Homo sapiens: one gene and its partners. The protein of the gene in region 3 interacts with the protein of the main gene of each other region in a pairwise test. Each region holds a gene or a part of one and is shown on either strand. Other genes may lie near its edges.

Evidence for each region.
Region 1: the proteins of CHRD (region 3) and TSPAN4 interact in binary tests that used the Homo sapiens proteins (3 or more experiments, as listed by UniProt).
Region 2: the proteins of CHRD (region 3) and NOTCH2NLA interact in binary tests that used the Homo sapiens proteins (3 or more experiments, as listed by UniProt).
Region 4: the proteins of CHRD (region 3) and FXR1 interact in a two-hybrid assay, tested with the Homo sapiens proteins (one large-scale study listed by BioGRID and IntAct).
Region 5: the proteins of CHRD (region 3) and NR4A3 interact in binary tests that used the Homo sapiens proteins (3 or more experiments, as listed by UniProt).
Region 6: the proteins of CHRD (region 3) and F2R interact in a two-hybrid assay, tested with the Homo sapiens proteins (one large-scale study listed by BioGRID and IntAct).
Region 7: the proteins of CHRD (region 3) and TRIM42 interact in binary tests that used the Homo sapiens proteins (3 or more experiments, as listed by UniProt).

The regions. Positions count from the first base shown.
Region 1 is NC_000011.10:845,852-849,597, forward strand, and holds part of TSPAN4 (tetraspanin-4), read left to right. Parts: intron 1-1,349; 5' UTR 1,350-1,449; intron 1,450-3,746. UniProt on the Homo sapiens protein: Structural component of specialized membrane microdomains known as tetraspanin-enriched microdomains (TERMs), which act as platforms for receptor clustering and signaling.
Region 2 is NC_000001.11:146,225,617-146,230,831, forward strand, and holds the start of NOTCH2NLA (notch homolog 2 N-terminal-like protein A), read right to left. Parts: upstream 3,406-5,215; 5' UTR 3,096-3,405; coding exon of another isoform or gene 3,093-3,095; intron 1-3,092.
Region 3 is NC_000003.12:184,386,476-184,390,890, forward strand, and holds the end of CHRD (chordin isoform 1 precursor), read left to right. Parts: exon of another isoform or gene 1-9; intron 10-16; coding exon 17-280; intron 281-369; coding exon 370-463; intron 464-575; coding exon 576-632; intron 633-898; coding exon 899-1,002; intron 1,003-1,455; coding exon 1,456-1,558; intron 1,559-2,111; coding exon 2,112-2,266; intron 2,267-2,417; coding exon 2,418-2,520; intron 2,521-2,891; coding exon 2,892-2,947; 3' UTR 2,948-3,354; downstream 3,355-4,415. UniProt on the Homo sapiens protein: Dorsalizing factor. Key developmental protein that dorsalizes early vertebrate embryonic tissues by binding to ventralizing TGF-beta family bone morphogenetic proteins (BMPs) and sequestering them in latent complexes.
Region 4 is NC_000003.12:180,943,399-180,947,813, forward strand, and holds part of FXR1 (RNA-binding protein FXR1), read left to right. Parts: intron 1-4,415. UniProt on the Homo sapiens protein: mRNA-binding protein that acts as a regulator of mRNAs translation and/or stability, and which is required for various processes, such as neurogenesis, muscle development and spermatogenesis.
Region 5 is NC_000009.12:99,859,238-99,863,652, forward strand, and holds part of NR4A3 (nuclear receptor subfamily 4 group A member 3), read left to right. Parts: intron 1-4,382; coding exon 4,383-4,415. UniProt on the Homo sapiens protein: Transcriptional activator that binds to regulatory elements in promoter regions in a cell- and response element (target)-specific manner.
Region 6 is NC_000005.10:76,725,842-76,730,256, forward strand, and holds part of F2R (proteinase-activated receptor 1 isoform 1 precursor), read left to right. Parts: intron 1-2,870; exon of another isoform or gene 2,871-2,992; intron 2,993-4,415. UniProt on the Homo sapiens protein: High affinity receptor that binds the activated thrombin, leading to calcium release from intracellular stores.
Region 7 is NC_000003.12:140,697,914-140,702,122, forward strand, and holds the end of TRIM42 (tripartite motif-containing protein 42), read left to right. Parts: intron 1-2,502; coding exon of another isoform or gene 2,503-2,601; exon of another isoform or gene 2,602-2,829; intron 2,830-2,974; coding exon 2,975-3,061; 3' UTR 3,062-3,237; downstream 3,238-4,209.

The DNA of each region.
Region 1 (3,746 bases), on a different chromosome or scaffold from region 3:
CCAGCCTCCAGGGCTCAGGTTTGGGTGGGAGGGGCCTGGTCCCACCCAGACTCTGTATGTAGCCCCCAGTCCCTGCTCCTCTGTGTGCATGAGGGAGTGCCAGCTTGCTTGGGACCCCCCAGGGTGAGGGCTTGGGACGGGCACTGGGGCCCCGCAGGGGCTGAGGCAGCCAGGAAGCCCACAGCATAGGCTGTTTGTGTTGGCGGGCCTCCCTACCTCCTCAAAGCTGCCTCAGAGCCCGTGGGCCTGGGGGGCCAGGGTGTGTGGGCTTGGCTCTGCTGTCTGTCCTGAGCTGCCCCTGCTGAGCTGTGTGGAGACCCCGAGGTCTGGGCTGGGCCAGGACTGAGCTGCTGCCCTGCTGCTGGGGCTCAGAGAGGCTGCTCCACGGGCATGGCACCCAGGCTGCTGCAGACAGGCTGCTTTATCATGTGGGCAGGCCCCTCTTTGGGTTGGACCTCCGTCTGGCCTTGTGGGTGTCTGAGATCTCCTTGCAGCTCAGTCCCCAGGGCTTTTCCAACCTGCAGAGCTCTGGATGTCTCTTTTGGGGCTCTCGCTCAGCCAGGGTTGGGGTGGAGGCTCTATGGTTCCCTCCTGCCCTTGGGCTACTGGAAGGACAGTTACCTCACTCCAGAGAGCTAGTTCTGAGGGGCGAGGTGTTGCGGGGTTGAGCCAGCAGGGCAGGGAGTAGTGGGCACTGCGTTTGGCTGCCCAGGTGGGTTTGGGGCCTCTCCCTGGCCAGAAATCCCTGAGTGCCAGGAGGAGGACAGACTCCCCAGCCTGGCACCCATGGTGGAGGAGGGCCTTGCGGGTCATTGCTGGCAGCTCCATAGGGAGGGCGTGAGGCCCCTTCCTGAGCCTGGGTGTCTGCTCAGAGCCCAAGGCAGGGTGGGGTAGGGGTGCTTGTGCCTGGTAGGAAGCAGACAGCAGGCTGGTCCAGGGGTCCAGGACCCCAGGGAGGAGGCACTGCTGCGTGTCTGTGTGGGTGCAAGCATGTGTCTTGGCCTGTGTCTCTGCATGTCCGTGCTGTGAGTACGTCTTTGAACATGTGTTCTCTGCACACCGTGTCTCTGTGAGTGTGAGTCTGTGTCCCTGCCTGGCTGTCTCAGAGCCCTGAAGGAGCAGAATTTGGTGACTCAGTCATTGATTCAGAGCTTTCCTGGTTGGGGCTACTCCTCAGTGGTCTTCTTCTCCGAGTCTGGTGGTGTATCCCCTGCCCACCCCGACTGCCCCTCTGCCCTGTAGGGACCTGGCCCCAGGTGGGGGTTCCCTGCCCTTCTCTGGGAGCATCTCTGGCTGTACAGCTGAGGGTGGAAGCCAGGGCTCCACTCTGCCCATCTTTCCTTTTGCAGAGCTTGGGGCTTCCTTGGTCGCACCCACCACCTGCCTGCCCACTGGTCAGCCTTCAGGGACCCTGAGCACCGCCTGGTCTCTTTCCTGTGGCCAGCCCAGGTATGTCAGGGCCCGGCTGGGCTGGATGGTTGTGGTGGGCAGCAGTGGGCTTGCCTCTGGGTCTCACTTTGCCAGCCCAGGGGCCTTGCCAGCGGACACTTTGACACCACACCTGAGTATCTAATTGGAGCTCCCGTGGGGAGGGGCTGGACTTTGGAGACAGGGTCCCAGAACACCCCGACTGGGGTGTTGAAGGACCCTCCCCGACTGAGCTCTGACACTGTGCCTTGCCCGGGCCCCTGACTGCGTCTGGGCAACCCAGTGTGAATCTTGAACTTGGCAACAGAAGCAAGCCCAGCTCCCCGCCCCCACCCCCCCCCAACCCCGCTCCTCCTGACCCTCGGTGGCCTTGTGAGGTTTTTGATTTCTTCTTGAATAGGCTTCATCTGCTCACCTGGGCGATGTGTGCAGAGCTTTGTAGATGGGAAAGGGGGTGGGAGGGGTCTTAGGGGACACTGGGACTGCATCCTGGGCGCTGGGCTCAGTGCAGGCACCCAGACCAGCTCTCCCTTCGCCCTCCCACCCGCCTGGGACCCTCGAGCCTTGCCTGCCACTTCCCCTTCCACCCCCAGCCACAGAGGGACGCAGGGGAGATGGGGCAGGGGTGCCACTGGCTAGCCTGGCGGCGGATGCTCTCCTTGGGGTGGCTCGGGTGGTGTTTTTGACTGCAGGTGGGGTCTGGCTTCTCCCAGTCAGCCTGGGGTCCTCCCGGGTCCCCGTGGCACCTGCCCTTGCCTGGCCCACGAGTAGGTGCTCTGAGCGCTGCCCAGGTCACATGTGAGCTCCCTGGAGGCGCTGCACACGGCTGAGTGTCTGCCCTCAGGTTGCACCTGCGTGGCCAGGGGAAGGGGGCCGGGCGCCATCTGCTCTCTGGGCAGAGCTGCGGGTGAGGGTTTCTGTCAGGGTTGGGGTCCCAGGGCTCCTGGGGTCTCTGCTGGGCCCCGATGCGTGGCCGCCGTTCTGACCCATTCCTGGGGCCCAGACCCACCAAAGAACCCCCAGGGGAAGGACAGGGTAGGGGCCATGGGAAGCCCCAGGATGGCCTTGTGGGCCTTCAGGGGACCTCCAGGCCAGCCTCCTGTTCTCTGGGGGCCCCCTGTCCCCTTCCCCCAGCGAGGACCTGGGCATGGGGTGCTGCCCTGGGGCTTGGGCTGCAGTTCTCTACAGAGCCCTTGGGGGGCAGCAGAGGCTTGGGGCACCCAGCCCAGGTCGTCAGGGGTGGGCAGAGCTGCGGGACCTCCCTGGGCACCCGGGGCTTCCACGGCAGCCCTCCCCAGACCTGCCACCTCCCACATCAGTCACTCCAGGAGGACCCAGGCCTCCAGAGCTGGTCAGCCCTGCCATGGAGCACCCCCTTCCCCTCCCTTAGCTTCCTCTCCCTCCTCTTCCTCCTGCCCTTCCTCATTCCCCACCTCTGGGCTTCAGGTCATCTGCCAGGAATCTGGGCCACGTGCTGATATCTTCCCAACACCGCAGGGCCCTTGTGCCCTGTGGTGGGGCTGGGGCTTCAGAGGCGTGGGGTAGGCTGCAGGGCACAGCTGGGGGCCTCTGTCCCCATCTCCGGCTGTGGGAGGTGTGTGCGCATCCGGCGTGATGACACCCAGGAGTGCAGGCACATCTGCGCACGGGGCCGGTATGTCTGTACCTGTCAAGGGGTGGGGTGGGGTCTTTTACAGGCTGACTTCCAGCCTGGGCTGGAGCAAAATGAAATTCTGGGCCCCTTGTTTAAAAATTACCAAGAATTTCAAGACGGGAACAGCAGAGCATCAAGCCAGCTGGGGTGGGTGCGCGCGACTGCCCTTGAAGCCGGCCCCGCTCCCGCATTGGGGACAGCACGGGGCGGAGGCCGAGCCGGGCCCACCTGGAGCGCTCTGGGTCTGTCCTGGGGCTGCCAGCCTCCTGCGGGGCTGCCTGGTGGAGGGGGGGTGGGTATCTCAGGAATCACACCTGCGCTTTTCTGTGTTCTGGAACCTCCCATATAGTCAAAGACTCAACGACACCTGCTCCATGCAGTGCAGGCTGACCCAGCCCCCCACCCGCCGCCGGCACTCAGGGCTTCCCCAAGGGCGCCCGGGGCGGAGCCGCTTCAAGTTGCCACCAGACAGCAACGGGGTCACCCTCCATTTGCGTAGTGCTTTGAGTATCGTTCTCGTGGTTGGAGGTCTCCAAGCCCGGCCCGGGGCCAGAGTCCGGGCGAGGTACCGTGGGGGGAAGGGCTGGGGGTGTCGGTCGCGGGCTAAGAGCTGCCCAGGTTTCATCCCCAGGCCCCGGCCCCGGCCTCCAGTCCCCTCAGGCGC
Region 2 (5,215 bases), on a different chromosome or scaffold from region 3:
TACACACACCTGAAGGTAAAAAAAAAATGTACTTAATCAGTGGGTTGCAACCAAGTTACTTGTCAGAATCACCTGTAAACCTTGAAAAAATATGGATTCTCAAACTTACCTTATCAGAATCCCTGGGTGCTGAGTCCAAGATCCACCCCAACAGATTTTGATGTAGCCAGGACACAGAGTTTTTTTCTACCATAATGGGAGAGGTAGGGAGGAGGATCACTAGGAATGGCAACACAGAGTGGGAACTAGATCAATGCAAATTTTGTGGGCAAAATAGAATTTCTGTGGGTGTGATATTTTTAAAATGTATTGTAAGGCTGCTCTGAACCATCCAAGCATATCCCACTGAATTTAAACATTCTCTAAAGGTCCTGAAGTCAGCAACTACAATCCAGGTGAACCAAAAGTTGCTTCTCTATGTCATAGAAGCCTACAGGAGAGGCAGTAGGGTGGGAATGGAGCAGAGAGATCCCAAGAAGTTATGGGTAAATATTTTTTAAATCTAAACATTCAGAAAAATAAGAGAGACTAGGAATCACTCTCCTCCTCCTCTCCACCACACCAAAAAAAAAGGAATAATAAGAAAGTGAAAGGAAAAATAGTTTTAGGTTAAATTTCATCACCATCTGAAAGAAAATTACTCCGATTTTGTTTAAGCAAGAGAAGAATTCAGCTGAGAAATTATCTAGCAGGCAGCAAAATCAGGGAGTCACTTCCCATTGCAAAGCAAAAGAAAACAAGGAGCAAGAGTATGGTCCTGGATAGCTGTTTAGACAATCAGACATACTGCTAACATCTCCTTGCCTTAGAAACTCCGTGATGTTTAAATTAACAATTGGCCACAAGCCAAACACAGGAACACTCAAAAGTTTAGAAGGGTGTGCTGTAATTGGTACCTTAGCAAAACACAATAATAAATTAGGAGGATTCAAGAAGCCTTCACTGTAGACTCTAAGAAGATTTAAGATTTGTACCAAGAAACAGGCTTCTAAATCTCTTCTACTGCATTAGTTTAGCATCTAAAGAACACCTGTCTAAAAATCAAAATATCTAAATCCTATCCTTTGAGTCAACTTGACTAACACTCAACTTGACTACCTAAAAGCTAGCTAATAATCGCAGCACCTCAGCAGAGCAGAGGTGGAGGGCATAGTTTTACGCACTGAGATCCTATAATAAAAGAAGCCCTATGTGTCAGAGTAATCCCATTTCTGACATATTATTTAATACTTAATTTTTCAAATCACTTTACAATCATATTTATTATTCCCTACAATTCTCTAAAGCAGGTTATTCCTTTAGTCCTGCTTCATAGGTGAGGAGACTACATATCATGAAGATTAAGTTATTTACCAAAACAAGTTAATGATAGACCAAGGATTATTACCCTCAGACTGTCTCATTGATTATACTCCTCTCTATCCTAAAGCTACACTTAAAGCTTTCACTCAAAGAAAAAGGAAAAGCAAAAACACCATCATATATGCTCTTTATTAAATGCTTCAGAAACAACAGCTCTGCTTCATCACTACAAAGCCTCCTGGTCCACTTCTGAAATTCTTAGTGACCTAGACGTGTACGAAATTTGAACTTTCCAAGAAGTATCTAGTTGGTGCTGAACAACCCAGTACTATTTTCGGGTGATAAATAACCTTGTTCTCTTTTTAAACATCTGCGATTGACATGTCGACTGACTGTTAACAATGAACAAAGACCATATTTTTCTGAAGCTCATCATCTTCCTAACCTTTTCTTTGAAAACAGATGTAGTTCATGTACTAGTTTTTTGGTGAAGGTAAAAATCTTTATTCAGATTAGGCTCAGAAAAAGAAGGGGCTGCTTTCCGTTCAACAAATATGCACAAGACACCATCCCACTGGGAGCATCAATCTCAGAAGCAGTAAAACACAGCCTCGGCCCTCAAAGGACTTTCTGAACACCTTTGGAGTGTCATCCGTTTAATATACATTATTTTAATTAATCCTATTAGCTGGATAATTTCATTCCCATTTTATTGGTGAGTTCATATAGCAGAGCTGGATTTGAATCCAGGATTACAGAGCAGGGCTCCAAAGCCCAAGTTATTTCCACTAAAGGGTCTGAAGAAATGTAGAATCTAAAAGTGTGGGTGGGATGGGGAAGATATGATTTGATTCCCTTTCCTTGGTCCAACCGTGTTAGAAACATCCAACCACAAAGAAGCTTTCTAAGGAAGCCCTTTGAATTGACGTATCCACTTTTTCTCACCCGCCCGTGCCCCACCCCCAGCCATGCCAAAGGAGCAGCAAATGCTGCTGCCAGGTTGGAGGAATTGGTGATCGTCACACCACATTCCTGGGTCTGGACACAGCCTGAAACAGCAGCAGAGCTCCGCGCCTCAGAAAGAATAACAGCAGTTGAGATTTTTAAATCATGTGCCTCAGCATGCAGCCACACCAGTTGCCCTACTTCTCCTGCCTCCACCTTTCAAAGACGCGAGCAGCACACCCGGCTCCTCCGGACTTTCGGTGGGGTTGGAGTGTCAAAACTCAGGCGCGCCGCAAAACCCCGTCCCCATCCAAACCAAGCCCACACACCCGGCCCATGTGCCGCCCCCTGGCAAAGGCGAGGCTGGCTGCGAAGGTGCAGGCCGTTTGGCTTGGCGGCCCTGCCCCCGCTCTCCACGCCAGAATCTGGCATTCCTTCGCTCAGCCCCTCCGAGGCCCGCCGTCGGCTCTCGCTCGACCCCAGGAAACGCGGAACCTGAAGGGCAAAACTGCCCACCTCCCTGCACCCTGGCACTACGAAAAAGGAGTTTCTGAGACTTGCTGCCGGCCTCCCTCCTGCCGAGGAGGCGTGTGAGGGGTCCCGGGCCGCGGGGAGCAGAGGCGGCGGGGAACCCCGGCGGTTGGCGGGGAACCCCGGCGGTTGGCGGGGCACCACGGGAGGGGCCCCCGGCGATGTCCAAACTCTCGGGAACCCAGCGAGTGGCCTCGCTCCGCGCCGGCGGCCGAGCCTGGCCTTCCCACACAGAGAAGGACCGAGGGGGAGAAGGGTCGCCCCAGGTGGCAGCCCCGGGCGCCGCGGACAGCGCCCCTCAGCCCGATACTCACCATGCGCGGGGGTCGCGCAGCACAGCCAGAGCGCCAGCAGCGCCCACAGCAGAGCGGGGCGCAGGGCGGGTATCTTCTCGGTCGCCTCCTCCGCCGCCGCCGCCGCGGCCGCCTGGGCAGATCCACATGGGGAGGGGGTCCCGATAGAGGAGCCCCACTCTCTCCTCCCCTCCTCCTGCTTCAAAGGCTCAGGCCCTGGCGCTACGCTCCGAAGCCCAGCGCAAATGCCTCGACTCCCCGCGCCCCGAGTCCGCCGCTCCTCGGCCGCCGCCTCAGCCGCCGCCCGAAGTTTGGCTGAAACTTTCTCGGGTGTGCAGCGAAGCAGCCTCGTGTGTCCTTCCGCCTCAGCCGCCTCCTCCCACCGCAAGCCCCGCCCCACTGTCGCCGCGGCCTCGGCCCCGCCGCCTTGGGCACCCAGGGGTTTCCCGCAGGAAGAAGCGCCGGCCCGAGCTCCGCGCGGAGGGATCTACTACGAGTCACTGGCCCCGTCCGCATCCTTCTCCAGCGGCCCCGGGGGCCGCCGCGCCTTAACTCGATCAGGGCTGCAGCGGCTCGCTGGCTTGACCAGTGCAGAAGGGGCGTGGAGGTGAGCGGGGTGGGGTAGGACTCTGAACTTCAAGCACTGGAGTTTGCCGGGATCGTGAACTTGCAGGGAGAGGCGGTCCTCATCCAGTGAGGTCTGTATCGCCACCTACACCCACACATCCACACACTGCTTTGCTAGCTAGAGGAATGCTCTGGAGTAGGACCAGTGCTGTCAAAGAAGGAAAGTGGGCCAAGGCGCCAAAGTCCATTAAAAAGGAATAGAGCCATCACGGAGTGGTGCTGCCCCATTCATTCATTCATTTGTTCATCCGTGTAGCGAATATTTCTTAAGTGCCTTACTTTGCGTAGCTGTGTGCTTGGCAGTGGGATGATACCAAAGATGCACAAGCAACTTTGAGTACCAAGACTTTGCCGCTGTGGGCTGGGGGATTCAGGGAAGGCTTTCCCAGAGGAGCTGGGATGAAAGCAGGATCTTGAAAGGTCAGTAAAATTTGTATAAGACAAGGAGACCAGCTAAGCTAAGGATATTCGTTGTAACACTGTAATAGCAAAACCTTGAAAACAACATAAATGCCCACCCTTAGAGGAATGGATGAATAATGTATGGTATATTTATAAAATGAAATGCAACACAGTAATTGAAAAGACTATAGCTATTTATGTCAATAGGGATAAATCTTAAAAACTAAATGACAGTGAAAATAATCGCAGAGGGAGACAAAGTATACCATTTATGTATATTTTTTTCAAGACAATACTACACATTATCTGTGGATGCATATATATAGATATAGATATTAAGAGACTATAACCAGAATAGTAGTTACTTCCAGGGCAGGAGAGTAGGGGGTGTGATCAAACCTGGGTACAAGTGGGCTTCTAAGAAAAGAGCTAAAAGTAAGAACAACAACAATAGTTGTATGGACATATCATTCCGGGAAAGAGCCCTCGTGAAAGCAAAGGTACAGTCAGAAGAGTAAGTAAATGAGTTCTGTCTCTGTTAGCAGTGAGAGGAGTCAAGGACGGAAAGGGGGTTGGGACCAAATTATGCAGCCTTGAATGGCAAGCTGAAAGGGTGGGGAGGCAGCTACCTCTTAGGTCACATAAAACTATTGAAAGTTTTTGAACAGAGTTGAGATTGATGGAAAGGAAGATTGCTCTGATAATTCTGTAGAAAATTGATTGTTGGGAGCAAGAGGTGAACTGGAGCCCCAGGACCAGTCAAGAGTTGGTGAACAGTCCAGGCACAAATTTAAGAAGACCTGAACTAATAAGGTAGATTTCAGAAGGAATGAATCTGAGACAATGTTAAAGAAACAGAAAAAAAAAATGGAGGTGTGACTAATTGGATGTGGGAGTTTACAATCCTGTTGGGATGAGAAATCCTACCCATAGAACCTCTCCCTGACTCCTATAGGATAAAATTCAAACTTCTAAACATGGTACATACAAGGCCTTTTCGTCATTGGGCCCCATCTCCTGTCCTCCCTGCCCCTGTTGTGAACTTCACACAATAACAGTATTACTTGAGATTCCCCCAAACATATCTTGCTGTTTCTGTCCCTGTATCTTTTGTT
Region 3 (4,415 bases):
TGGCCTCTCCTCCCAGGTGCACATAGCCAACCAATGTGAGGTTGGCGGACTGCGCCTGGAGGCGGCCGGGGCCGAGGGGGTGCGGGCGCTGGGGGCTCCGGATACAGCCTCTGCTGCGCCGCCTGTGGTGCCTGGTCTCCCGGCCCTAGCGCCCGCCAAACCTGGTGGTCCTGGGCGGCCCCGAGACCCCAACACATGCTTCTTCGAGGGGCAGCAGCGCCCCCACGGGGCTCGCTGGGCGCCCAACTACGACCCGCTCTGCTCACTCTGCACCTGCCAGGTAGGAGGTCCTGGAAGGGCACACTGGGTCCTGGGATCTGGAGCAAGGGGCCTGGACACTCCCGTCAATGCCTCTGCTCCTCTCTGCAGAGACGAACGGTGATCTGTGACCCGGTGGTGTGCCCACCGCCCAGCTGCCCACACCCGGTGCAGGCTCCCGACCAGTGCTGCCCTGTTTGCCCTGGTGAGTTCCCCGCAGGGGAGTGGAGGGAGGAGTTGGCCCAGTGCGGACAGGTCCTTTGGGGAGGGAATGAGGGTGGTCACTCTCTGCTTTCACCATTTCTTTGGCTCCACAGAGAAACAAGATGTCAGAGACTTGCCAGGGCTGCCAAGGAGCCGGGACCCAGGAGAGGGTGAGCTGGAAGGGTGCGTGCAGGGTGGGAGGCCCCAGAGGAGCCATTAGGTTGAACCAGGAGGGGGACAAGAAGGGGAGAGTATATAGGGGGTGGCCTGAGGGGCACAGATTCCAAGTGATGCCTGACAGGACTCATTAGTGTTACTGGCCCCCAGGTGGGCCCTTGGCTTAGGCTCGTGTGGGGGTGGCCTGAGGCTCAAGCCTTGGTTGTGGGCCCAGCTGATGAGCTCATACTAATGGCTGCTGGGCCCTGTTCCCCACCAGGCTGCTATTTTGATGGTGACCGGAGCTGGCGGGCAGCGGGTACGCGGTGGCACCCCGTTGTGCCCCCCTTTGGCTTAATTAAGTGTGCTGTCTGCACCTGCAAGGTATGGCCACCCAATCTTCTCTGGTGCCATAACCCAGCGGGGTCTGCAGAGATGGGGAGGGGCTGCCAGGTGAGGAAGGCCCGTCCTTGGTGAGGAGGGCTCAAGAATCAAAACGATATGAGAAAAGGCCCTTGCGCTCTGAGAGTCGGCTTCCTGTGGGAAAATGAACAGGGCTGACCTGGGTGTGGATTCTGGCTCTGCCAGCTAACTAGTGCCAGTGACCCTAGGCACCTTCTGTCCCTGAGCCTCACTTTCCTCTCCTGTAAGCAGATATGATGGCACCTACCTTGCAGGGTTCTGATGAGGAGCTGAGTTTAGGTCTATAAAGCCAGTCCGGGCCTCTGAGTAAAAGGCCACAGAGAGACTGCATTTGAGGTGTGGAATAGGAGAGGGAGTGGGCAGGAGGCTTATGTGCCCCCTGCCTGACACTCCTTGCTCAATGGATCCCTACAGGGGGGCACTGGAGAGGTGCACTGTGAGAAGGTGCAGTGTCCCCGGCTGGCCTGTGCCCAGCCTGTGCGTGTCAACCCCACCGACTGCTGCAAACAGTGTCCAGGTGAGAGAGGTGGCTGAGCACTGAGGCCTCACCTTTGGGTTGAGGCAGGCTTTGTCCTGGGTGAGGGGAAGGGTGCTCAGTTAATTGAGCATTATACTGAGCACTGCTCTGTGCCTAGCCTGGAGCCAGGACTCTAAATGCAGTGGAAAGAATGTGATATACTAGTGGGGTATGATGGGTTCTGGTTCCTGCTCCATCCATCCGTCCATCCATCCATCCATCCATCCATCCATCCATCCATCCATCCATCCGTCCATTCATCTATCTATCCACCCATACAACCATCCACCCATTGATGCATCCATCCATGCATCCATCCATCCCTCCATCCATCCACCCATCCACCCATTGATGCATCCATCCATCCATCCATCCATCCATCCATCCATCCATCCATCCGTCCCTTCATCCATCCATTCATCTGCCCACCCACCCATCCAAATTTATCACCTACTAAGTGCCAGAAACTGCAACGTGCTGGGTATTCAAAGAGAATACTCATAAAACCTTGTTGGTCCTCCTGGGCTGATCCTTTCTCTTTCCCTCTCAACAGTGGGGTCGGGGGCCCACCCCCAGCTGGGGGACCCCATGCAGGCTGATGGGCCCCGGGGCTGCCGTTTTGCTGGGCAGTGGTTCCCAGAGAGTCAGAGCTGGCACCCCTCAGTGCCCCCTTTTGGAGAGATGAGCTGTATCACCTGCAGATGTGGGGTAAGTGGGGAGCAGAGGCTTGTGTGAGGTGGGTACTGGGAGCCTGGTCTGGAGTAGGGAGACCTTCCCAGGGAGGTCCCTGAAGAAGCTGAAGGTCACTGTGTCCCAGTGCCTCTGGGGGACACTCAGTGTCTGCTCTGTCTTGTACCAGGCAGGGGTGCCTCACTGTGAGCGGGATGACTGTTCACTGCCACTGTCCTGTGGCTCGGGGAAGGAGAGTCGATGCTGTTCCCGCTGCACGGCCCACCGGCGGCGTAAGTGAGGGAGTCCAGGGTCAGCAGCTGTGAGTGGAGGGCTCACCTGCCTGTGGGACTCCTGATCAGGGAAGGGAGCACTCACTGTGTGCAGGAACAGTGCAGCCTGCCTCACAAGTGCCATTCCAATCCACCCTCACAGCAACCTGGTGGAATTGTTATTTATGACCTTTTCTTTACAAATGAGATTTCTGAAGCTCAGAGAAATTAAGCAACGAGATGAAGGTCACCCAGCTGTGTGCACTGACCTGTTTAGAAAATACTGGCCTTTCTGGGACCAAGGCAGGGATGCTTTGCCCTGCCCTCTATGCCTCTCTGTGCCTCTCCACTCCCTCTCCCCTCCTCCAACATTCCCTCCCTTCTGTCTCCAGCAGCCCCAGAGACCAGAACTGATCCAGAGCTGGAGAAAGAAGCCGAAGGCTCTTAGGGAGCAGCCAGAGGGCCAAGTGACCAAGAGGATGGGGCCTGAGCTGGGGAAGGGGTGGCATCGAGGACCTTCTTGCATTCTCCTGTGGGAAGCCCAGTGCCTTTGCTCCTCTGTCCTGCCTCTACTCCCACCCCCACTACCTCTGGGAACCACAGCTCCACAAGGGGGAGAGGCAGCTGGGCCAGACCGAGGTCACAGCCACTCCAAGTCCTGCCCTGCCACCCTCGGCCTCTGTCCTGGAAGCCCCACCCCTTTCCTCCTGTACATAATGTCACTGGCTTGTTGGGATTTTTAATTTATCTTCACTCAGCACCAAGGGCCCCCGACACTCCACTCCTGCTGCCCCTGAGCTGAGCAGAGTCATTATTGGAGAGTTTTGTATTTATTAAAACATTTCTTTTTCAGTCTTTGGGCATGAGGTTGGCTCTTTGTGGCCAGGAACCTGAGTGGGGCCTGGTGGAGAAGGGGCAGAGAGTAGGAGGTGAGAGAGAGGAGCTCTGACACTTGGGGAGCTGAAAGAGACCTGGAGAGGCAGAGGATAGCGTGGCAGTTGGCTGGCATGCCTGGGTTCCGCAGAGGGGCTGGGGATGGTTCTTGAGATGGTCTAGAGACTCAAGAATTTAGGGAAGTAGAAGCAGGATTTTGACTCAAGTTTAGTTTCCCACATCGCTGGCCTGTTTGCTGACTTCATGTTTGAAGTTGCTCCAGAGAGAGAATCAAAGGTGTCACCAGCCCCTCTCTCCCTCCTTCCCTTCCCTTCCCTTTCTTTCCCTCCCCTCCCCTCCCCTCCCCTCCCCTCCCCTCCCCTCCCCTTCCCTTCACTCTCCCTTCCCTCTCCCTTCCCTTCCCTTCTCCTTCGTTCACAGCAATGGGGTCTTGCTATGTTGCCCAGGCTGGTCTTGAACTCCTGGCCTCAAGTGATCCTCCTGCCTTGGCCTTCCAAAGTGTTGGGATTACAGGCATGAGCCACCACACCCAGCCCAGCCTCTACCTTCTTTGTCTAAAGTGAGGCAAACACTTTTCTGTTTTTTTCCTGGAAACTCGTGTTCTGGACCAGTTCTGGGGCAAACTGGGGTCAGAGTGGATTGGAATCAGCTCTGATCCAGCTTTTGGCTGTGCTTACCTTGAGACCAAATCATGTAGAGAATAAGACAAGACCCTCCTGCCCTGTTACCCTCTTCTCTCTCCCCTCCCTCATTCCTACCATCAAGACCCAGGCATTTTGACAAGCTCTAGGAAATGAGGGTATCAGAACAGAAATCTAACAAATGTATGTAGCTGCAGATCCATCTTTCATATAAACAATGTGGAGTCAAATGAATCTGGGATTTTATGATCTGGTAGGGCAGGGGAAAGGGAAATCATAGCTTGCTTATGGAGTGTTAGGCATGCTGTATGTGGTTAAGAAGTTATTGTCTTAGCCCATTGAAGCATCGAGTTCCAGTTCTGCTGTTAACTAGCTGAGTTA
Region 4 (4,415 bases), 3.4 Mb from region 3:
ATTACGGGCGCCCGCCCACCACCATGCCCAGCTAATTTTTGTACTTTTAGTAGAGACGGGGTTTTGCCATGTTGGCCAGGTTGGTCTCAAACTCCTGACCTCAGGTGATCCACCCGCCTCAGCCTCCCAGAGTGCTGGGATTACAGGTGTGGGCTGTGCAGCCAAATTTGTAGTGTTTTTGATTCAGGCTTAGGAATTTAGGTTTAGTCACTTTATGAGAGTAACTTGGTCTTTCAGGGGTGAAGTTATGAAGCTTACAGAAGTGGATATTAAGTTTAAAATGGAGTTCAGCATTTCATCGTTCAGTGAGAAAAGCCTCCAGGCAGTTGAGATGGTTTATTTAGAAAGCCAGATTCATGAATGATTATGCTTTGGTGAAAATAGAATAAGGGGGTTAGGTAGTTTTAAGACATAACATTTTCAGCAAATGAGGCTTGATTTACCCACATTAACAAGAGATATTCGAACTGCCTCTCTGAGATAGTTACTCGAATGGGCACCTTCTTTTGGTTGTTAGGATATTCTTTTTTTTTTTGAGATGCAGTTTCGCTCTTGTTGCCTAGGCTGGAGGGCAATGGCGCGATCTCAGCTCACCGCAGCCTCCGCCTCCCAGGTTCAAGCAATTCTCCTACCTCAGCCTCCCGAGTAGCTGGGATTACAGGCATGCACCACCACGCCTGGCTAATTTTGTATTTTTAGTAGAGACAGGGTTTCTCCATGTTGAGGCTGGTCTCGAACTCCTGACCTCAGGTGATCCACCCACCTCGGCCTCCCAAAGTGCTGGGATTACAGGCGTGAGCCACCGCGCCCGGCCTAGAATATTCTTTTTGTAACCCTCAGTATACTTGGGAAAACAGTCATCACTGATCGTTTACCAAATAATTTTGTAGCAGAAAGAATGAAAGGGTAGTAAGGTCGTTATTGGACCTTTTTTTTTTTTGAGACAGGGTCTCGCTCTGTCACCCAGTTTAGAGTATAGTGGCATGATCATGGCTCACTGCAGCCTTGACCTCCCAGTCTCAAGTGATCCTCCTTCCTCAGCCTCCCAAGTAGCTGGGACTAGAGGCATGCACCAACCACACCTGGCTAATTAAAAAAAAATTTTTTTTATAGAGACGAAATCTTCCTGTGTTGTCCAGGTTGGTCTCAAACTCCTGGGCTCAAGCAGTCCTCCTGCCTCAGCCTCCAAAAGTGCTGGGATTACAGGCATGAGCCACTGTGCCCCCCATTATTAGACTTTTTTAAAGGCCATTATTGACTCCATGCTGGAGTATAGTGAAGCAAACACAACTCACTGCAGCCTTGACTTCCTGGGCTCAAGAGATCCTTCCACCCTACCCCAGGCCCCCAAGTAGCTGAGATTACAGGCACATGCCACCATGCCTGGCTAACTTTTGTATTTTGCATAGTGATGGTGTTTCACCATGTTGTCCAGGCTGGTCTCGAACTCTGGAGCCAAAGTGATCTGCCCACCTCAGCCTCCCAGAGTACTCGGATTACGGGCGTGAGCCCCACCACGCATGGCCTTATTAGACATTTTAGTGAGGGTTTAAACATAGCAAATCTAACTTTTTCATATTTTCCAGGTTTTGATGATATATGTATCTACAATGAATGCAGTTCTCTAAATGTAACTAACTGCTCACTGTTATACATGAACCTAGAACATACCAATCTTATAAATATTGATAGCAGATTTAAAATATATCTCTAATAAATTCTAGCTTATTCTGGTTATTCTTACAGTTGGATCATCAGAATGCAGTCCTTGAATACTTTGGAACTTTTAATGACATCTCATTCTATTGAAGAAGGGATAGCCATCTCTGTGCTGTAATTTTAGCACATTTAGTCAGTTGGATTGACTAATCTATTGAATATTTTTGCATTTCATTATCTTTCTTTTTCGAGTTACCTTTGTATACACATCTGCTTTTGACATTTCCACTTACGAAGTACATTTTGGCACACAAACATTTCTTAAAATTTTATCTTCAATTTTTATTTTACCTTTTTTTTCCCCCTGGACAGGGTCTCGTTCTGTCACCCAGGGTTGAGTGTAGTGGTACAATCTTGGCTCACTGCAGTCTCAACTTCCCAGGCTCCAGCAATCCTTCCACCCTAGCCTTCCATGTAGGTGGCACCACAGGTGCACGCTACGACACCTGGCTAATTTCTTTTGTATTTTTGATAGAGATGGGGTTTCATCATGTTGTCCAGGGTGGTCTTGAACTCCTGAGCTCTCAAGCAGTCGACCTGCTTTGGCTCCCCAAAGTTTTGGGATTATAGGTGTAAGCCACCGTGCCTGACCACAAACATCTTAAAAGATGGAAGAATACTGTCATATACCCTTTTAGCAAACCAGGATGATCTGGGTTCTTGTTGGAGGATTTTGCATGATGGAGTCTCAGTTGAGTCATTAACTGGATGAGAATACACATCATCTTTCCCTCTTCTCCTTAGAAATACATTGTTTGAGAACAATGTTTGAGAAATACATCGTTTGAGAAATACATCGTTTGAGAAATACATTGAGAACATTCATCTAAGATGTCACCATCTCAGACTTCATAGTCTGAGGTTTTGCTTTGTAAGATAATTTCACATTTATCAGTACTCTTTGCATCTGTTGTCTGATATCTCTAATAATTAGAAAGGCCTTCCTCTGTAAATTTTTCTTCTCTTCGCAATTATGAGTGAAAAAAATTCATAATTATCAACTGGTCAACGGTAGCTAAAAGCAGACTACAAGGATGGTGTCTTTGGTCTTTTTGAACTGTTTTGAAAGAGATGTGATACCTCAGGCTATGCAGTAAGGAAACTGTATGAACATTAACAGTTTATTTCACTGTTGTATCCTCTAGGTGATGCCATCATTCCTCTGTTCCATTTTAGTCTTTATTTAAAGCATAGCTGAGAATAACTGATGAATGTTGATGAAATTGTAAAGTGTTTCAAGATATAGGAAAAATAAGATCACTAGATTCTACCTTACATTTATAAAAGGGCCCAGTGGATACATATAATAATTACAGAATAAGGGTGAGTTCTGTTCTAGTCTTAGAGAAGTAAACTTTCTTGTTTTTTGGAATATGTCGTAAGGAAGAATATAAGTCATGAGATATTGATCCCTTTGAATAGTTAGATCTGTTTATAAAAGAAATGGAAAAGCTAAAATTGAGTTTAACGGACCCTGATTGGTATATTGGACTTCCTGCTTTTTCTCATAGCTTTTTTCTAATCATGGTATACGATAAAGTTCATTAGTAGGTTTTGGTTTATTCATTTCCAGTTCCAGTATTCCTACCACTTCCAAGATTACTCTCAAATCATCCTGATAGAAGCTTCAGGCTTTCTAAAAGTCTTTGTTTTTAGTTGTTTGTGTTTATCTCCCAGATGGCTGTTAACAGCCACTGATAGGTTTCCCTGATGATCTCTGCAAGGACAGTCAATCTTGGTTTTTATTGGTTTTTAGTTTCTTCTCAGCCCCCCTTTTCTACCTTTCTCTATACTGAAAATATAATACGTTAAAGAAGCTCTGCTGTGTCATAAGAAATAACTCTAATCCCAAGTGAAAGCTTCTGTGACCTATTACGTTAATAAAACTGATATTTATAGATATAAAGAATATGACTTGTTTTTTTGTGGATAGTTTTTATTTTGTTTTTTTTGAGATGGAGTTTTGCTCTAGGTGCCTAGGCTGGAGTGCAATGGTGTGATCTCTGCTCACTGCATCCTCCACCCTCTGGACATGATTCTCCTGCCTCAGCCCTCCGAGTAGATGAGATTACAGGCACCTGCCACCATGCCCGGCTAATTTTTATATTTTAGTAGAGACAGGGTTTACCGTGTTGGTCAGCCTTGTCTCGAACTCCTGACCTCAGGTTATCCACCCACCTTGGCCTCCCAAAGTGCTGGGATTACAGGTGTGAGCCACTGCGTCCGGCCTGGATAGGAATTTTGTAAGATACTTAATGTATTCTGCTAGATGGACTGAATGTGTGTAATTTTTTTGTTCAGTTAAACAATTTTAGTACATTTGATTTAGGTTCTTTAGCACGGGATCTAAATGTCATATCCTCGATGGAATTTAAAAATTACGTTAATCACTTTCTGAGAACAATTTTTAATATTAACAATGTTGACAGAAACAGGAAGACCTGTGTTTTACATTATTTAAAACTCCTTTGTAAGAGCATTTCTTTAAAATAATACTTATGTTTAGTAAACCTCATGAATATGGAATTAATTTCTAAGAAGCTAAATTGCCCAAAAAAGTAGTTTTATTTTTAAGTAGTAAATTTAAGTTACATATCACTTTCTTTAAATTGCATTTAATATGCCAATTTAAATAAAATAGCATTTTTCATTCTTAAGTTTATTGGGATTGGGTATTAATAAAAAGTCATTTACAG
Region 5 (4,415 bases), on a different chromosome or scaffold from region 3:
TGCCTGATTTCCCCCCGAATTTATGAACTCTGTATATTAGCTCCGTAGCCATGTTTACCAAGCTACAAGAAGAAAGGAGATCCCTTTAACTAAAATGTCAGTGATTAGGTTTTAAGGGATTTCAAATTACTAGGGAAGGACCCAGACACTTAGTGACTCCCTAGTGATTTGAAAATCTTCCTGGCTGCTGGCAGTAGTTTGCATGGAGACTGAATATTATCTCAGCCCTTTTGAAAAAGTAAAGAAGCTACAAATCCAGTGGCTGTTCAAAACAACAAAGAGGGTTGAGGTGCCTTTGGCTTCTAACAGGACTGTCTCTGAATTCCTCAAGGAATTCCAGGCCTAGAGTTGATCCAGCTGGCAGGAGGTATCGATCTCCACTTGAATTCACTGAATAAATAATGGTTGCCATAGTTATTGAGCAGTCGCAACTGGTTGGAGAGCAGGGAAAATTCTGCAGTACCTTCTGTGAGTTTGGCCATGAGAAAGTCTGGTTACAAGGTTCCACAATCAGCTCCCTCCCCAAATCCAGCCAACATATTACTCAGTTCCTGTATCCTGATGATGAATATGAGATCTTGAATGTTATGTAAGACATGAGACACTGAAAGGAAGGGAAAGCTTAAATCAATGGACTGGTATTTATTCTGAGAAAGGCGTCTCTCCCTAGGTTATGAATATAATTGAATATTTTTCATTATTAATTCAATTTAGTATCAGCAAGGTGATGTTTGATCATGTTATAGCATTCAAGGGCTTCACAAAGGACGAAATCCATCTCGTTCTATTTTAACATTATTATACAAAGAGCACAACCTGGACATTTTAAAAGGAAGGAAAATTTATCCCAAAACCCCATAGGTATTTTCACGTTTATATTTTCTTTCACCCTTCTCTATATGAAGAAATAATTTTTGCATAGATGGAATCACAGCTTTAGTATTTAATATTCTACTCTTTATTTAATGTTGTAAACGTTTTTTTTTTTAATTTTGCTTCATGGCCTTCACATTTGTTCTGTTTGATGTCTTCAGAATCTTCCCTTCCATATACCATTATTTACTTAACAGTTCCCCTATTCTTCAGCCCTTTGCCTTTTTCCAGTTTTTTGTTTGTTTGCTTTTGTTTTGTTTTGTCTTGGTAATAGATAATGCTGAACCAAATGTCTCCATGTATACAGTTTTATTCTTCTGTTAAATGTTTCCTTTGGATAAATTCCCAAGAGTGGGATTACTTGGTCAGAGGCTATGAACGATTTATAGCTCTTGAAATTTACTGCCAAATTTACAGCCTGTTCTTTTGTTTTGGGGAGAAAATAAAACTTTAGGCAGAACACCACTGCATGCAGGATTCTCTTAAAATTCATTCTCTTAAAATTCACAACAGTCTCTTCTGAGACTGAAACATGGAGCCTGTGTATTTAGTAATGATAAGCCGTAGGAGACAGGTCCGCACCTGGGCTGATTAGCTAATAGTTTCTCAGGGAAAGCAAAATGATGCACTGCAAAGCTTGGAAATTAGGCCACGAATTGCTTTTTGTTAGACCTTGTAGTTACCAGCCACTTGCCCACTGGCAAGCATTGTCTTTGGTTCTGATTATTCCATGTGTATAGCACTCTACAGCTGACAGACCACTTTTCCATAACATTATCTTAATTGAGCCACAATAATCCATGGAGTTGGGTTTTATTATCATTGTACTTTTTCTTTTAATTTATTACATAACATTGAAGACACACAGGAATAATAACAGCAAAGGCTGTGTATCTGCCACTCAATAATTCCGATTTTCCTGTGAAGACATTGAGCCTTAGAGAAATTAGGTCACCCAGCTAGTAAATGACAGAACCAGAACTAGAACCTAGGTCTGTCTAACTCCAGGGCCAGTGCCCATCTCTTTATAGCATATTGCATTGAGACAAGATGCCTGCAACTTACAGTCCATGGAGATCCCGCTGGCAATCTTCATGGTTGTATTTTAATATCATTATAACATATCAGGCCAGGTGCAGTGGTGCATGCCTGTAAGCCCAGCACTTTGGGAGGCCAAGGTGGGTGGCTCACTTGAGGCCAGGAGTTTGAGGCCAGCCTGGCTGATATAGTGAAACCCTGTCTCTACTAAAAATACAAAAATTAGCCAGGTGTGGTGGCACACACTTGTAATCCCAGCTACTTGGGATGCTGAGGCAGGAGGATCTTTTGAAACCGGGAATGTTGCAGTGAGCTGAGATTTCACCACTGCATAGCCTGAGTGACAGAGTGAGACTCTGTCAAGGAAGGAAGGAAGGAAGGGAGGGAGGGAAGGAAGGAAGGAGGACACATCAGAGCTTTGGGACCTTACAGATAATGAAGTTCAACCGTCTCCTTTTACAGGGCCCCAAAGTGGGAGGAACTTCCCCAAATCATACACAACTAGCCAAACTGAGGATAATGCAAATTTTCTGGTTCCCAGGCCTCTTATTTGGGACAAGAAAAAAGTGTCTGGATAGTTCTTCATTTTTCTTATTGGCTTTTGCTTCAAGGAAATAACTTTTCTAACAAAAATGCCCCCAACTTAAAAAATTAATTTAGAGCCAGGCACGGTAGCTCATGCCTGTAATTTCAGTGCTTTGGGAAACTGAGGCAGGAGGATCACTTGAGCCCAAGAGTTCAAGACCAGCCTGGGCAACATAGTGAGGCCCTGCCTCTACAAAAAATAATTTAAAAATCAACCAGGTATGGTGGTGCATGCCTATAGACCTAGCTACTTGGGAGGCTGAGGCAGGAGGATCACTTAAGCCCAGGAGTTCCAGGCTACAGTGAACCATGACTGCACCACTGCACTGCAGCCCAGGCAAGAGAGCAAGACCATGACTCAAAAAAAAAAAAAATTAATTTTGTAAAAATTAGAAACTATTGCTTGATTTCCCATTAGAAGGATGTCTTCCATCTCTCAAGAATTATGATTTTACATGTAAATGTACTGAGAGAAGAAAATTTCGAGATAACAGAGGCCAAGCTCTTCCTTTAGAAATGAGGCTCTGAGGCCAGGCACAGTGGCTCATGCCTGTAATCCCAACACTTTGGGAGGCCAAGATGGGAGGATTACTTGAGGTCAGGAGTTCGAGACCATCCTGGCCAATATGGTGAAACCCCATCTCTACTGAAAATACAAAAAATTAGCTGGGCATGGTGGTACACACCTGTAGTCTCAGCTACTCGGGAGGGTGAGGCAGGAGAATCGCTTGAATCGGGGTGGAGGAAGTGGGGGAGCAGTGAGCCAAGATCGCACCACTGCACCCCAGCCTAGGCAACAGAGTAAGACTCTGTCTCAAAAAAAAAAAAAAAAAAAAAAAAAAAAAAAAAAGAGAGAGAAATGAGGCTCTGAAGTCTAAATGTTGAGGAAAAGCATAGTGATTTGTTGTGGATGTCAGGCTCCCTTCTCATTGCTTTGGAACAAGAGACCAGTATTTGCCTCAGAAAACTGGGTTCTAATCCTAGCTTTTAGCAGCTGAGTGACTTTGGGAAATTCATTTAACCTTATACATAAGATAGATCATAGTATTTAACATGGAGATCATTTTATATATTGTTTTGTAAAATATAAGATACTGGTATTTGTGTCTTAATACATTATAACATGCCTGCACCACATCCTTCTGGGCTTCCTCCCCTTCTCTTTGGCTTTTCCATCTCCACAGCAGGAGGACATGTGTATTTTGTACAGAGTGCCAGGTGTAGGTCAACAGGGGTTTCAAGTGGGGGGGAACAAAACAAGGAAAAGAAAAGCTGAATTCTTCTCAGTGCTGGTTAGCATGAAAACACAGGAATGCACTTTGCTGTGTTGGGTCTTTTCGAGCAGCCCTTGCATTAGCAAATGGAAGTTACAGCCTCCCCACCTCCCTTAAATGAGTCTGTCAAGATAGAAACATTAATTCATTTGCCTGGATGTGTTTCTATGTCACTCTGAAAAATAGTTGCCTACTGACAAGGCTTTGTGAGAGCTTAGTAGGATAATGTATGCAAAATAATAACCACCCTGCCATTCATTCCATGTGGCTGTGTGCCAGGAACTGTGCTTCCCTTGTGTTACTTACCTAAGCTGGCCATCCCAGAAACCCTGAATTGGGTATGATCATTTTCTTCATCTCATAAGGAAATGGGTGCTCAGAAGTAAAGAGACTTACTCTAGGGCACACAGCAAGTAAGTGTTGGGACTGGGATTCAAACCTTGGTGTTGCTTCATACCAAAGGCCATGAGCTATCTCTAACAGGGAGGGCACTTTGATTGCAAAGAAGCTATCCAAACTGGCAGAATGAGACACAGACCTCAATTAGGGATTCAAAGTGTCTTAAGATGTATTTGCCTCCTAAACTTCTTGCCCTTCTCTATCCCTCTGCAGAAAGACATGGGTTAAAAGAACCAAAGAGAGTCG
Region 6 (4,415 bases), on a different chromosome or scaffold from region 3:
TTTAAAACAAGTACTTACTGCCTAAGTACTAAATACAGAGTAAAGTCTAGTGACAGTTTTATTTTCAGACTAAGTGATAGTATCTGAAGAGCTTAGTTGTATTTATTAGTTTTCACATTGTGTCAGTCTCTCAGGTGTCATCTTGATTCATGTATGTAAGTATGCATGTTCATGTCCACTTTTTCCCCTCTGTGCATCACAAAAGCCCATAATCTGGCCAGGCTTCCAAAACTGCAGAGGAGAATTGCATTATTTTAAGGTTCCTTGGCCAGGTGCAGTGGCTTATGCCTGTAATCCCAGCACTTTGGGAGGCTGAGGTGGGTGGATCACTTGAGGCCAGGAGCATGAGACTAGCTGGCAAGCATGGTGAAACCCCATCTCTACTAAAAATACAAAAATTAGCTGGGCAGCCGGGCGCGGTGGCTCACACCTGTAATCCTAGCACTTTGGGAGGCCGAGGTGGGTGGATCACGAGGTCAGAAGATAGAGACCATCCTGGCTAACACGGTGAAACCCCATTTCTTCTAAAAATACAAAAAATTAGCCGGGCGCGGTGGCAGGCACCTGTAGTCCCAGCTACTAGGGAGGCTGAGGCAAGAGAATGGCGTGAACCCGGGAGGTGGAGTTAGCAGTGAGCCGAGATAGAGATAGCGCCACTGCAGTCCGGCCTGGGCGAAAGAGCGAGACTCTGTCTCAAAAAAAAAAAAAAATTAGCTGGGCATGGCGGTGCGTGCTTGTAATCCCAGCTACTTGGGAGGCTGAGGCAGGAGGATTGCTTGAACTGGGGAGGCAGAGGTTGCAGTGAGCCAAAATCGCACCACTGCTCTCCAGCTTGGGTGACAGAGCAAGACTCCATCTCAAAAAAAAATTGGTTCCTCTAGATCAGCATTTTTGCATATGCATGTTTTTGTGATATTAAAGTGCCAGAACCACAAACAAAAAAAATTAAAAATAAAAAAAAATGTTTAAGTGCCAGAAGCCATTCATTCTTTTCTTTCAGCACCCACACACTCATTGTGATCTTGAGAACAGCCTCACATCCACAGGGTCTGTTGGTACCAAGGTCAGGCTTCTGTGTGACTGGGGCAAGGTGAACACAGAGTAAGTTACATGCATTGCAAAGGTAAGAGAGTGATACTTCCAGAAAAGATTGTGAATTCAAAATTTGATTTATAGCTCTGAACCCTAGAGCTATATAATATACAACTTGTTCATTCCCTCATTGTACTAAAAAACTATAAACATTGCTAAGTAGGAGGGAAGATGAACCTAGATTTCCTTTTAACTTAATTAAGTGAGCAAACAATTGGGTATAAAAGCACACTACATGGAAGTGGGAGAGGAAGGATAATAGTAATTTCTTAAACTGCTTAATCGTTATGGTTTCCAAAGTGAATGTATGTCCTGTTTCACACGGGATGCTCCAGTTGCCAGATTTGTAGGCCAGACAGGAATTAGAATTCCATTTTAATGATTCTGAGCTTAATTCAGAGAAGTTAAGTGATCCCTGAACAGAGTCAATATTAGAATACAAATATGTGCCTACCACATGCAGGGCACAGGGTACTGGAGGTTCAGAGATTAACAGGAACAGTTCTTACCCTTAAGGATCAATGTAGACACAAGTGTGTATTCACATTCATCACTGGAGACATTCATTCCTTCCCTGTGACAGATCTCCTGCCAGGCCACCCCTTCATTGTCTGGAGACCCTCTCCCAACTTTGCTTAGGTAGCTTGACCTCAACCCTACACTACCAGGCTCTGCTCTGCTGTCTCTGAGTTGGTACTACTCTAGCTTTGCTCTTCATTTTGGAAATAGATGCCAACATATTGTATTTTATTTTCTATTTCTAGAATTTCCACTTGGTAGTTCTTTGCTGATATTTCCTATTTTCAGTTCATTTCTATAAAATATTTTTCTTTTTTTTTTTTTTTGCACATGGTTGTAATACATTCTTCAAAATCCTTATCTGCTAATTCCAACATCTGGGTCAACTTGAGGTTGGTTTCCGCTCACTGTCTTTTTACTTAAGACTGGGTCACTTTTTTTTTTTTTTTTTTAGAGACAGAGTCTCACTCTGTTGCCCAGGCTGGAGTACAATGGTGTGATGATACCTCACTGTAGCCTCGATCTCCCAGGCTCAACTTGTCCTCCCACCTGGGCTTCCCAAAGTGTTGAGATTACAGGTGTGAGCCACCACACCTGGCAGCCCCCTTTTTCTTTTATTTGACAAAAAATTATATATATTTATAGTGTATAACATAATGTTTTGAAATATGCATAACTTGTGAGATGGCTAAATCAAACTTATAACATGTATTACCTCAAATACTTATCATTTTTTGTGGTGAGACCACTTAAAGTCTACTCTCTTAGCAATTGTCAAGTATACAACACATTGTTATTAACTATAGTCACCGTATTATACAAGAGATTTTTCTAACTAATTCCTTTTAACAGAAATTTTGTACCCTTTGACCAATGTCTCCCCAGTCTACCCTACCCACCCATCCAACCCCAGCCTCTACTAACCACCATTCTCTTCTCTGCTTCCATGAGTTCAACTGTTTTCGATTCCACATATAAGTGAAATCATGCTATATTTGTCTTTCGGTGCCTGCCATATTTCACTTAACATTATGCCCTCTCGGCTCATCCATGTTGTTGCAAATGACAGAATTTCCTTCTTTTTTAAGGCTGAATAGTATTCCACTGTGTATATACATCATATTTTTTATTCATTCATTCATTCATCAGTGGATACCTAGTTTGATTCCATAACTGGGCTATTATAAATAATTCTGCAATGAACATGAGATTGCAGCTATTGACATCCTGGTCTTTTTTTTTTTTTTTTTTTTTTTGAGATGGGGTCTCGCTCTGTCGGCCAGGCTGGAGTGCAATGGCGCAATCTCAGCTCACTGCAACCTCCGCCTCCTGCGTTCAAGCAATTCTCCTGCCTCAGCCTCCCGAGGAGCTGGGATTATAGGTATGCGCTACCAAGCCTGGCTAATTTTTGTAATTTTAGTAGAGACAGGGTTTTGCCATGTTGGCCAGGCTGGTCTCAAACTCCTGACCTCAGGTGATCCACCCACCTTGGCCTCCCAAAGTGCTGGGATTACAGGCGTGAGCCACCGTGCCCAGCCAGCATCCTAATTTTATTTCCTTTGGATGTATGCCCAGCAGTGGAATTGCTGTATTATATAATAGTTCTATTTTTAGTTTTAGAGGAACCTTCATACTGTTTTTCGTAATGGCTATGCCAATTTAAATTCCCACCATCAGTATAGATGGGCTTCCTTTCCCCGTATCCTCACCAACACTTGTTATCTGTCATCTTTTTGATAATATCCATTCTAACAGGTATGAAGTGATAACTCATTGTGGTTTTAATGTTCATTTCCCTGATTAGTGATGTTGAGCATTTTTTCATATACTTGTTGGCCATTTGTATGTCTTCTTTTGAAAAATGTCTATTCAGATCCTTTGTCCATTTTTAAATCAGGTGATTTGTTATCTTGCTGTTGAGTTATAGGAGTTCCTTATATATTTTGGATATTAACCCTTTATCAGACGTATGGTTTGCAAATATTTGCTTTCATTTCATAAATTTTCTCTTCACTGTTGATTGTTTCCTTTGCTGTGCAGAAGCTTTTTACTTTGATACAGTCCCAGTTGTCTACTTCTCCTTTTATTGCCTGTGCTTTTATGGTCATTATAAAAAATTACTGCCCAGACAATGTCATGAAGCTTTTCCTCTATGTTTTCTGCTAGTAGTTTTACAGTTTCAGGTCTTATGTGTAAACCATTAATCCATTTAAGTTGGTTGTTGTATATAGTGTGAGAGAAGGGGGACAAGACGTCCAGAGTTTATCACTTTTGTGTATATTGGTTGGATCTGGTGATAACGATTTGGCTCTATGTCCCCACCCAAATCTCAACTTGTAGCTCCCATAATTCCCATGTGTTGTAGGAGGGACCCAGTAGGAGATGATTGAATCATGGAGACGGGTCTTTCCTGTGTTGTTGTCATGATAGTAAAATGGGTCTCTCAAGATCAGATGGTTTTAAAAACAGGAGTTTCCCTGCACAAGCTCTCTCTTTGCCCGCTGCCATCCAAGTAAGATGTGACTTGCTCCTCCTTACCTTCTGCTATGATTATGAGGCCTCCCCAGCCATGTGGAACTGTAAGTCCAATAAACCATTTTCTTGTATAAATTACAGGAAAAAAGACTCTGGATTTTGTTATATTCCTTCAAAGAGTGTTGGTGTTTTTGCTTTAGCAGCCAATTAATTTGGTTTTACTCAAGCAGCAGACTCTTTCTCTCTTGAGCAGAAGCTTAAATATCACTTCAGTTCTTTTATCTTTAGCAGAGGTGCTTCTCATCTTTCCTACAAATGCATAGTTCAAG
Region 7 (4,209 bases), about 44 Mb from region 3:
ACCTCGTGATCTGCCGGCCTCAGCCTCCCAAAGTGCTGGGATTACAGGCATGAGCCACCGCGCCTGGCCAGAAATGCCACTTTTATATTCAGTTTCCATATATTTAGGGGTATGTCTCTGAGGACTCTATTACATGCCATGGGTCTATATTTCTGCTCTTATATCAATACCATACTTGTTTTATTATTTTTGAACCTCAGCTTTCTGCCATGTCTTTATGAACTGCTACGGTAAGTATGCCCATTATCCTTCTTTCTTTTTCAGAAATTATTTAGCTAATCATAGAAATTTATTTCTTCATATACATTTTGGAGTAACTTGAATTCTTAGAAAACATTCAGATAGAATTTATTCAGAAGGCATTGTGTTTCTAAATTAATTTGGAAACAAATGGTATTTTTGTAATATGTTTGAACATTTACTCAAACCATAGTCTATGTTCTTTACTGGGGTGTTTAAGTTTTCCTACATAGGTGCACATATTCCTGGTTAAACTAGATCATTTAGAGATCTAACGTACAGCATGAGGGCTACAGTTAATAATATTGTATTGATAGAAAATTTGTTAAGATTTTAGGTGTTCTTTTCACACACACAAAAAAAGATAACTGTGAGATGGTGGGTATGCTAATTTGCCTGCCTGTAGTAATTATTTTACTTTGTATACATATGTCAAAACATCATGTTGCATACCATAAATAAATAAACCAAATAGTTTACAGACTGTTGATATTATGAAAGTTATTTTATTATATTTTCTAATAGATTACTGGTTTAGAATAAAGACTATTTCTGTTTGTAGGGTAATCTTGATTCCAGCAATGTCAGAAACTCTCCTTACTATTCTGAGACCCAATCTGCTATTTCTGCTTGTTTTCCCAGGCATATGATCCTATCTCCTATAAAGAATGATGGTTTTATCTGTTTACTTACAATTCTCACAATTCTATTTCTTTTTTCTTTCCTTATGGCTTTGGCCAGAACCTTGAGTCATACATAAAATTGTGGCAGTGTTAGTAGATATCCTTGTCTTATTCCTGATATTAACGTTTCTCCATTGAGTTATTTTTTATTTAGTTTTTATGGTATATAATCCTTATTAAGTTAAGGAAAATTACTTCTAGGTTTCTGAGAAATAGGTACTTATTAAATTTTTTGCATTATTTGAGGTAATTACATGATTTTTCTCCTTCAGGCCATTATTAATGAAGTGAATTACATTGACTGATTTTTCTGATACTAAATTCCACTTCCATTCATGGAATAAATCCTGTGTGTTCATGATGTATTACTTTTTAATACAGTTTACTTCAGTTAGCTCGTATTTTATTTTGGTTTATTGCATCTATAATTATAAGGGAATTGGGCTCAATTTTTTGCTTATATTGTTTTTATCTGGTTCTGGAATCAATATTTCACAACCTTCATAAAAAGAGCTGGGAAACTTTTTGCTCTTCTATTTTCTAGAATAACTCTTAAGAGTTTGGTAGAATTCATCTGGAAAGCAATATGAGCCTGGGGCATTTGGGGCAGGGAAGAGATGTCAACTATCATTTCAATTTCTTTAATATTCCAAGTTTTGTTTTTCTGTTTCTTCTGTCCTTCTTTCTACCTGATTCCCTTTTTTCATAGACACACCTCAATCCTCACTGCTCCATTCACATATCACATACAGTCTTTATCTTTGAAGATTCTGACTATATTTTAAAGCAAAAACTCAATCTCCTATTTATGAGTTAATTCCTAACACCTCGTAACACCGTTCCATCTTCCTCATGCCCTCTGATAACTCTGTGTGTATCTTGGACATTATTTATACTACTTTTATCAGGGTTATCTCTATGCATTATTTCCATTTCTACTCAGCAATGGATAATCTAATATCATGTATATAATATGACCTTTGCCTTGCATGCAGCCCTGTCTTCTCTAAAACCAAAAATTTTGTAAAAGTAGAGAGCATAATGCTAATAAGGGTCTGGCTTCTTTGTTTTTGCCCTTTCCCTTTATATACAAATATAGAAGGTTAAAAGCTTTGTACATAGAGACTTTGTGCCCTGTATAAACATTCCTCTTCACCATACAAACCCCACCCCCATTCTATCTCAAGTCCTCATTCACCTCAGCAGAGCCCATTGATCCAGTGGACTGTCTTTCATCCCTGGGTCTCGACCTCACTCCATAAATATTTATTTGGGGGGAAGGAATGGGAATGCTGCCAGACCACAGTAGTGAAGAAACCCAGTATCTTCAAGGTAAGGCATGGAGGGCAACATCTAAGCTAACTTGGTGAGATTTCTAGGAGGGTTCTTCTTACCCCTCGTGCCCAGTACAGTCTTTCTTTTTCAGGTAGCACTGGCCATTCACTGTAATTAAAGATAGTATGAAGTGTTTCTGCTAGCATCAAAGGAAAACAACTGGCAGATTTACAAATTATATTATATTATAGTTCTATTCACTGTTCATATACTTCTCTAAGAATCTTCTCTTTTCCATAACTAGTGTTGGGACCACAGAGATGAAAGACTATCATTTCCCCCACACCCCAATCAAGGTGCTCATGGTCTGGTAAGAAAGTCAAATGCATTAGCTGAAACTTAACAACTGATAAAAGCTGTGACAGAACCAAGTTCTAATGGCTGAGGAAGGATACAGAGGATCCTCTATGGTGAAGCTCACCTGCGGTCCAGCCCCATCACTGTCATCAGCACTTAGTCACATGAGCTACCCTAAAGGGAAGTAGGATCTGGCCTATGGAATCACAATCCCAGGACACTATAGCTGTGGGGCTTTGGGAAACCTTCCTGGTCCTTCTGAGCCTCAGCTTCTTCATCTATAAAGTGGCACCAACAGCCACTGTGGTGGTCGTGAGGAGTTAATGAAATGATGTGTGTAGTGTCTGACATGCAGAAGGGCCCAGGCTACTGGGAGCTGTTGTCTATTGGGTGTCATGACTCTTCGCTTCTGATTGCAGGTGGTAACACCAGATGGACATGGGAAGAACCGAGCTAAGTGGGGCCTGCTGAAGAATATCCAGTCTGCCCTCCAGAAGCACTTCTGAGCCCCTTCAGAGCAGGAAACAACCTCAGACTCATCACAAAGTAGACATATACACACACATATATGTATGTATATTTTTCTCACCACATTCTTCAAGGAGGTTGTAGACAAATGTTTCCATGACCTCTCAGCTTTCCAACAGGAATCTTGTAAGAGCTAATAAAAGGAAATACCTGACATGGCTTGCTGTTTGTTCAATGACAACTATTTGTTATGATGACAGTAATAAGCAAGGCACTCAGCAAGTCTGTATATTTCCAGCTGCTCAGGTCTAGTCCTAGGCTCAGAATTCTGTGGTGTTTTGTAGGAGCAACACCCAGCTTCTAGGTGGTAAAAAGAACACTGTATTTTGCAGTCGGGACCCCGTAGGTGTGCATTCTAATGCTGGCCTAACTAGCTTTGAATGCTTGGGCAAGTCGCTGATTGCCACGGAATTCATTACCTCACCATGTAGTCTATTTTAAGGAGCCAACATTAAAATGTTTTTCCTAATTATTGAACTTGAATTTGCCTTTTCACAACTTTCAGCCCATGGTCTGAGGTCTACCTCTAAGCCATAAAGAATGAGAGCCCTCCCTCTTCTCCTTCTGGACATAGCAAAGGAAGAACGGTAGAATGCCTGGTTAGAGGATCCTCTATGGTCATTTGAAGCAAGGCATGGAAGAATGACAAAATCATGTATCAGCTCCAACCTCACTGAACTTAGCTTGGCCTTTCAGACAATATGAAGTCCCTAGAATTTCTTGTCATACAAGGCCCTATCTGCCAGAAATGACCCTCTACTGAACCCCACGCCATTTCTTCCCAGAAAGCACCACCTGTCTTTCAAGACTCAGCTCAACCACTTTCCCCAGTGATCCTCCAAATTATGATGACAACATCTTTCTCCCCTGCATCCCCACTAAGCACAGGGACCACCTGTCCCACCCCTATTTCCCATAAAGACACCCATTCCAGCCCTGTGATACTTAGGACTCATTTGTCCTGAGTCTTAGAGCAGAGATGGTGTCTCATTCATCTTCTATCCTCAGTGCTTGGGACAGTGAGGCACACATTACATGTTAGTACCAGGAGGGACACACCACAGCTGAAAGGCAGACACATAGAATGACTCTCCTCTGAACATCCCCAGGTGCCAGTTTGCACAAT